Linked DNA regions of Homo sapiens. The protein of the gene in region 1 purifies or fractionates together with the protein of each later gene. This does not show direct contact. Each region holds a gene or a part of one and is shown on either strand. Other genes may lie near its edges.

Evidence for each region.
Region 2: the proteins of TRMT1 (region 1) and PDPR purify together in Homo sapiens (co-immunoprecipitation; 2 studies listed by BioGRID and IntAct, with this or other methods). This does not show direct contact.

Annotation. Positions count from the first base shown.
Region 1 is NC_000019.10:13,110,093-13,113,902, forward strand, and holds part of TRMT1 (tRNA (guanine(26)-N(2))-dimethyltransferase), read right to left. Parts: intron 2,920-3,810; coding exon 2,804-2,919; intron 2,726-2,803; coding exon 2,613-2,725; intron 215-2,612; coding exon 66-214; intron 1-65. UniProt on the Homo sapiens protein: Dimethylates a single guanine residue at position 26 of most nuclear- and mitochondrial-encoded tRNAs using S-adenosyl-L-methionine as donor of the methyl groups. tRNA guanine(26)-dimethylation is required for redox homeostasis and ensure proper cellular proliferation and oxidative stress survival.
Region 2 is NC_000016.10:70,117,332-70,120,831, reverse strand, and holds part of PDPR (pyruvate dehydrogenase phosphatase regulatory subunit, mitochondrial isoform 1 precursor), read right to left. Parts: intron 3,346-3,500; exon of another isoform or gene 1,737-3,345; intron 372-1,736; 5' UTR 340-371; coding exon 113-339; intron 1-112. UniProt on the Homo sapiens protein: Decreases the sensitivity of PDP1 to magnesium ions, and this inhibition is reversed by the polyamine spermine.

The DNA of each region.
Region 1 (3,810 bases):
GATCCCCCAGGGCAAGGTCCTGTCTCCTCTCTCAATCCACCACCGCTCTCTGCCCCCGGGCTGACCTGGCTGAGGCCTTGACCTTGGCCTGGCCGGTGAAGACACGGACAAAAACACGCACGTAGAAGTCAGCGCTGATGCTGAGCAGCGGCACCACGAAGCGCTGGTAGCAGTTGGCGCGGAGGTCCAGGCTGTGCAGGACGATTCTCAGGGCCTGGGGGTGGGGGGTGGGTGTCAGCCTCCCCTCCACTATCCACCCACCCCACCAGGAGCCCTATGTGGTACTCACAAGTACAGGCTCAGGGCCAGCTCCCTGGGATCCAAGCCCACCCCTGAAAGTCCTGGCTGTGGGACCCTCAACAAGTGAGTATCCCCTCTCTGTGCCTCAGTTTCTTCATCTGCAAAATCACAACAGTCCCTGTCTGTGGCACTGCTGGGGGCACTAAACGAGTGAGGAAAGCATAGATCCAACCTATTCTGACCAGCATTATCGGTGTGCCATGTGGCATGTACTGAGGACCCACGTTCCAGCCCCCAAGGGCTCTGTGGGCAGGAAGTGGGGATACTAGGTGCTGTAGAACTGCTGGGGCCTGGGCCGGGCGTGGTGGCTCATGCCTGTAATCCCAGCACTTTGGGAGGCTGGTCAGGAGTTTGAGACCAGCCTGGCTAACATGATGAAATCCCCGTCTCTACTAAAAATACAAAAAATTAGCTGGGTGTGGTGGCGGGCGCCTGTAATCCCAGCTACTAGGGAGGCCGAGGCAGGAGAATCACTTGAACCTGGGAGGCGAAGGTTGCAGTTAGCTGAGATCTCACCACTGCACTCCAGCCTGGGCAACAAGAGTGAAACTCCATCTCAAAAAAGAAAAAAAAGCAAAACGGCTAGGGCTTTCCTGCTAGTGTGAGACTCTGATATGGGAAAGGAGACAGCATTTCCCGGGCTGACTTCATGACAGGACCCTTTAGGAACAAGGGCAAGAGCCCTCTGTGGACCACGCTGGAGTGCAGTGGCACTATCAAAGCTCACAATAACTTTGAACTCCTAGGCTCAAGTGATCCTCCTGCCTCAGCCTCCAGAGTAGCTGGGACCACAGGCATCCACCACCACACCTAGGTAATTTTTAGGGTTTTTTTGTAGAGATGGGGTCCTCGCTATGTTGCCCAGGTTCCTGACCTCAAGTGATCCTCCCACCTTGGCCTCCGAAAGTGCTAGGATTACAGGCATGAGCCGCTGCACTTCGCCACTCAGCCTTCTTGAATCCTGATCAGACACTCAATAGGGTCAGACCATTTTTTTTTTTTTTTTTTGAGACAGAGTTTTGCTCTTGTTGCCCAGGCTGGAGTGCAATGGTGCCATCTCGGCTCACCGCAACCTCCACCTCCCGGGTTCAAGTGATTCTCCTGCCTCAGCCTCCCGAATAGCTGGGATTACAAGCACCCACCACCACGCCCAGCTAATTTTTTTTTTTTTTTTTTTGTATTTTTAGTAGAGACGGGGTTTCACCATGTTGGCCAGGGTGCTCTTGAACACCTGACCTCTTGAACACCGCCCACCTCGGCCTCCCAGAGTGCTGGGATTACAGGCGTGAGCCACCGCGCCCGGCCTATTTTTTTTTCTTTTTTTTGAGACAGAGTCTTGCTCTGTCGCCCAGGCTGGAGTGCAGTGGCACAGTCTCAGCTCACTGCAAGCTCCACCTCCTGGGTTCACGCCATTCTCCTGCCTCCGCCTCCCGAACAGCTGGGACTACAGGTGCCCGCTACCATGCCTGGCTAAGTTTTTGTATGTTTAGTGGAGATCAGATTTCACCATGTTAGCCAGGATGGTCTCAATCTCCTGACCTCATGATCCGCCCACCTCGACTTCCCAAAGTGCTGGGATTACAGGCGTGAGCTACCACGCCCGGCCTATTTTTTTTCTTTTTGAGATGGGGTCTCCCTCCCAGGCTGGCGTGCAGCGGAGTGATCTTGGCTCACTGCAACCTCGCCTCCTGGGTTCAAGTGATTCTCCTGCCTCAGCCTCCTGAGTAGCCGGGATTACAGGTATCTGCCACCATGCCTGGCTAATTTTTGTATTTTTAGTAGAGATGGGGTTTTACCATGTTGGCCAGCTGGTCTCAAAGTCCTGACCTCAGGTGATCCACCTGCCTAGGCCTCCCAAAGTGCTGGGATTACAGGTGTGAGCCACTGCGCCCGGCCTTCAGACCATCATTGTGCCCATTTTACAGATGCAAAAAAACCCGAGGACCAGAAAGGTGAAGTCACTTGCCCAGAGCTACCAGCAAAGCTAGGATTTAAACCCAGTCCTGGAAAAACGACCTTTAAAAAAAAAATTTTTTTTTGAAAAGTTGTTTTAATACAGAAAACTAAAATAATGTGGCCATGCACTCCTGTCCTGGCCAAAGCCACTGTCCCCAAATGACCATGATTATCAGCCATGCTCTTAGGAACTATGTGGGTTGAAGACACGCCTGTCGTTAACAGCCTGGGATGCATCTGGCCATCAGCCTGGAGGAAGCTGAGCAGGTCTGAGGAGGGGGAAAGTGTATTGGGAAGGGACTCAGACAACCACCTGTCCCCCGGTCTCCCTGGCTGGCTGGCAGAGGGCCCCTCACCATCTCGTGGCAGGCCCGGCTCTTGAGGGCCATGGCCCCGTACTTGCTGTAGCACGTCTCCCCGCTGTTCCCCGCCAACACCGCCATGTCTGTGCAGGTCACACACAGCAACCCTGCAGAGAGGGGCTGGGCAGTGAGAACCCTCCAACACCCCAAGCCCTGCTCCCACCCCAGTGCCATCCCCACCTCACCTCCTTCACTCACAGCCTGCACAGCTGCATCCAGGAAGGTGGCTGGGCTGCCATAGGGGTCCAGATCGATGACGTCAAACCTCTCCGACACCCTCTGGTGCTGGTACATCAGCATCCTGGGTGCAAAGAGGGCCAGGTCCTCAGCCTCCCACGCCAGGTACCTTCTCTGTCCCCTACACATATTAACTCGTACAGCACAGTGGTTTGGGTCTGAACTCCGGGGCCAGATTCCCAAGTTCAAGTCCTGGCTCAGTCATTTATTTATTTATTTATTTTATTTTTGAGTCGGAGTCTTGCTCTGTCAGCCAGCTGGAGTGCAGTGTTGTGATCTCGGCTCCCTGCAACCTCCGCTTCCCCAGTTCAAGCAATTCTCGCGCCTCAGCCTCCCGAGTAGAGTAGCTGGGACTACAGACATGTGCCACCACGCCCAGCTAATTTTTGTATTTTTAGTAGAGATGGGGTTTCAACATGTTGGCCAGGCTGGTCTCAAACTCCTGACCTCAAGTGATCCATCCACCTCGGCCTCCCAAAGTGCTGAGATTACAAGTGTGAGCCACTGCACTGGCCTTGGTCATTTATTAAACTGCACAATTTTCCTACTTAGGAAAAGCACCATGTGGAACTCAGTCCACACATCTAAAACAACAACAATACTGATATAAGACGTATCTGCCTGACACCATTTCAAGCAGTTTATAGATGTATTAACACATTTTTTTTTTCCTTTCTTTGGAGACAGAGTCTCGCTGTGTCACCCAGGCTGGAGTGCAGTGGTGGGTTCTCGGCGCACTGCAACTTCCACCTCCTGGGTTCAAGCGATTCTCCTGCCTCAGCTTCCCAAGTAGCTGGGATTACAGGCACGTGCCACCATGCCTGGCTAATTTTTATATTTTTAGTAGAGACGAGGTTTTACCATGTTGGCCAGGCTGGTCTCGAGCTCCTGACCTCAAGTGATCCGCCCACCTCGGCCTTCCAAAGTGCTGGGATTACAGGGGTGAGCCACTGCG
Region 2 (3,500 bases), on another chromosome or scaffold:
CTACTTAGCAACATTTAGATTAGCTACTGGTGGGGCAGTATCTCTGAAAGGAGAGGGAATCTTATACGATTAGTGCAGCACAGCCATGAGCCAAATGCAGTCTGATCCTTACCTGCCCTGCTCCAAAAGGACAATATCCTTCCACCCCATTTTGGAGAGGTGATAGGCCACAGAAGTGCCCGTGATTCCACCTCCACAGATGACCACCTGTGCCTGGGTGGGCAGGGCCATGGAACGCGCCTCGGCAGCTGACGTGCTGTTTCTTGCAGAGGACCAGTTCTGCCATCCTGGGCTGGCTCTTTGTCTTCCAACAATCGACAGCAACCGGTAGAACATCATGTCTCTCACCAACTAGATCTCAGGAACTCAAACTAGACAGAGAAACCAAACATATTTCATGCCATTCTACTCAGTGCATGGGATTAATGAGAAAGGGATTTGACAAAGAACGATAGCCATTCATTCAGCAAATATTTGAGGGTGGCTGGGCATGGTGCCTCACACCTGTAATCCCAGCACTCTGGGAGGCCAAGGCGGGCGGATCACGAGGTCAGGAGATCGAGACCATCCTGGCTAACACAGTGAAACCCCGTCTCTACTAAAAATTCAAAAACTTAGGCTGGGCGCAGTGGCTCACACCTGTAATCCCAGCACTTTGGGAGGCCGCGGCGAGTGGATAACGAGGTCAGGGGTTCGAGACCAGTCTTACCAACATGGTGAAACCCTGTCTCTACTAAAAACACAAAAATTAGCTGGGCATGGTGGCAGGTGCCTGTAATCCCAGCTACTCAGGAGGCTGAGGCAGGAGAATTGCTTGAACCCGGGAGGCGGAGGCTGCAGCGAGCAGAGATCGCGCCACCGCACTCCAGCCTGGGCGACAGAGCGAGACTCCGTCTCAAAAAAAAAACAAACAAACAAACAAAAAAAAAACAAAAAAAGAAATATTTGAGGGCATTCTGAGTTTCAGATATTCTGCTAGCAGTGAACAAGAATGGGGAAGTCCCTGTCTTTATGAAATTTACATTTGAGAGTTTGCGTGTGTGAATGAGGAGAACACCAATCAATATACAAATAAACATACAAATAAAACAGTAAATAAAGCTAACATGATAGAGTAACTAGGGGCATATTTAAAACAGGATGGTCAGAAACAGCCTCCAAGGAAGTGACATTTGGAAACAGACCTGAAGGATAAGGAACGAGCTATACATTTGGCAGACACTGAGACGAGCATGTGCAAAAGCCCTGAGGTAAGACAGACCAAGAACAAAAAGGAGGCCGGCATGTACACGACACGGGGAGTGTGGGGAGATGATCTAAGACAATGCTGGAGAGGCAGGCGGAAGCCAGTTACACACAGCCCTTGGGTGCCATCAGCAGGAGTTGGAATTTTATTCAAAGTACAAAGGAAAATCACTCATGCGGGAGTATCACTAGCAGGGGAATGAAATGATCTGGGATGTTTTTCTTTTCTTTGTTTTTTTTGGCGGTGGGGGGTTGGGGGATGTTTTCCAAAGGTCAGTCTGGCTCCATGGTGGAGAGCGGATGGTAGAATTATAAGAAAAACAGAGTTGACTTCCTAGGCTCAAGTGATCCTCCCACCTTGGTCTCCCAAAGTGTTGAGATTACAGGCATGAACCACTGCCCTTGGACAAGGCAGGGTTTTAACAAACTTAATCTATCAGCAAAACAGATGACTGTTCAAGTTTCAAGAAACTGAAGAAGAAAGCACCTACTGGCTGTCCATGCAGTCATGTGTACAGGAGGATGAGGACTTTGAGACGAGAGGCGGTAGACAAGGGGGCCTTAGGGTAGCTCACTGCTAGTCATCTCCTTACCGCCTCCACTGCCAGCCACAGGACCCACAGATGCTCCACAGTCAGCACAAATTGTCCAAGGCCAAGGTATCTATGTCCATCCATCAGAGATGACTCTCAGAATTGCAACCAATGCAAGCACAGACTGTGTCCAGGCAGACATCCCATCCAACTGGAGACAAATTGTCTTGGCCACCTTGTGGTTGCCACCATGCCTCTCATCCCTGGTCCCTGTTAAGCACCATCTCAAAACAGAAGCTTCTCTACCCGGCTAGTCTTTCCATAATCTCATCTCCACGTGACCAATTTATTTCCCGTGGCCCAAGCTCTCTTTGCTTTCCTCTCCTTCAAGCCCCTCTACTGCACCCTCCAGAATACCTTTCCCAAAGGTAAACACCCACCCCTTTGCTGACATTCTCTCTACCCTCTGTCCCAATGGCAACACAGCTCTCCTGGGGAACTGCTGCTGCCAAATGGCCAGCCCCGTCCCATTGACCTCACTGTCAACCTCCTGGCTTCTGACCCGTGACCACTCGGTTATACTTGAAAACTGTCCTGCTCCTTGGTGGCTTAGGCTAGCACATGTTAAGCCACAGGCAGACCTCTGTCTGTATTCAGGTTCAGAGCCCAGCTATTCCTCTCTCAACCTTCAATTTCACCTCCTTTCTTCCCTCATTCTAAGCAGATAACCTGGCTCATCTCATTCCCTGAAACCCTTCCTATAGACCCACTTGCATCTGCAACCATCTCTTCCTTCCTTCTTTTATCCACTGGAAAGTTAATCTCCCCCAAGGGCCCTGGATCCCACTTCCTCCTCTCTTCTCTTGACCCTAGCTCCATCAACTGCTATCTCTCTTTCATGTACCTGCAACGTTTCCCTCCCTTTTTGCTGCTTTTCCTCAGCAATTTTTTTTTTTTTTTTGAGACAGAGTCTCACTCTGTCGCCCAGCTGGGAGTGCAGCGGTGTGATCTCGGCTCACTGCAACCTCTGCATCCCAGGTTCAAGCAATTCTCCTGCCTCGGCCTCCTGAACAGCTGGAACTACAAGCACGCGCCACCACGCCCAGTTACTTTTTGTATTTTTAGTACAGACAGGGTTTCACCATGTTGATTAGGCTGGTCTTGAACTCCTGACCTCAGGTGATCCACTGGCCTTGGCCTCCCAAAGTGCTGGGATTATAGGCGTGAACCACCACACCCACCTTAATGACTTTCTGATGCCCTCAGGAAAAAGGCAAAACTCTTTTCATATCAAGTGCAAGATCCTTCACACTCTGGTTCTTATCTGTGGTCTCATTTCTCCTTTCCTCACACTCTGACCAAACCAGACTGAACAACCTGTAATTCGTCAAACATATCAGGTGAGGCGTGAGTGTTCTATTCGGCTCCAGGTTCTGTGCATGCTGTTCCCTCCTGGCATGGTTCCTGCCACCTCTCCCCCAAATACAGGTAATCTCCTCAGGTCACAGCCTCTTTGACATCTTATTTATTTTTTTTGAGATGGAGTCTCGCTCTGTCGCCCAGGCTGGAGTGCAGTGGTGCGATCTCAGCTCACTGCAAGCTCTGCCTCCTGGGTTGATGCCATTCTCCTGCCTCAGCCTCCTGAGTAGCTGGGACTACAGGCACCCACCACCATGCCTGGCTAATTTTTTTTTTTAATTTTTAGGAGAGACGGGGTTTCAC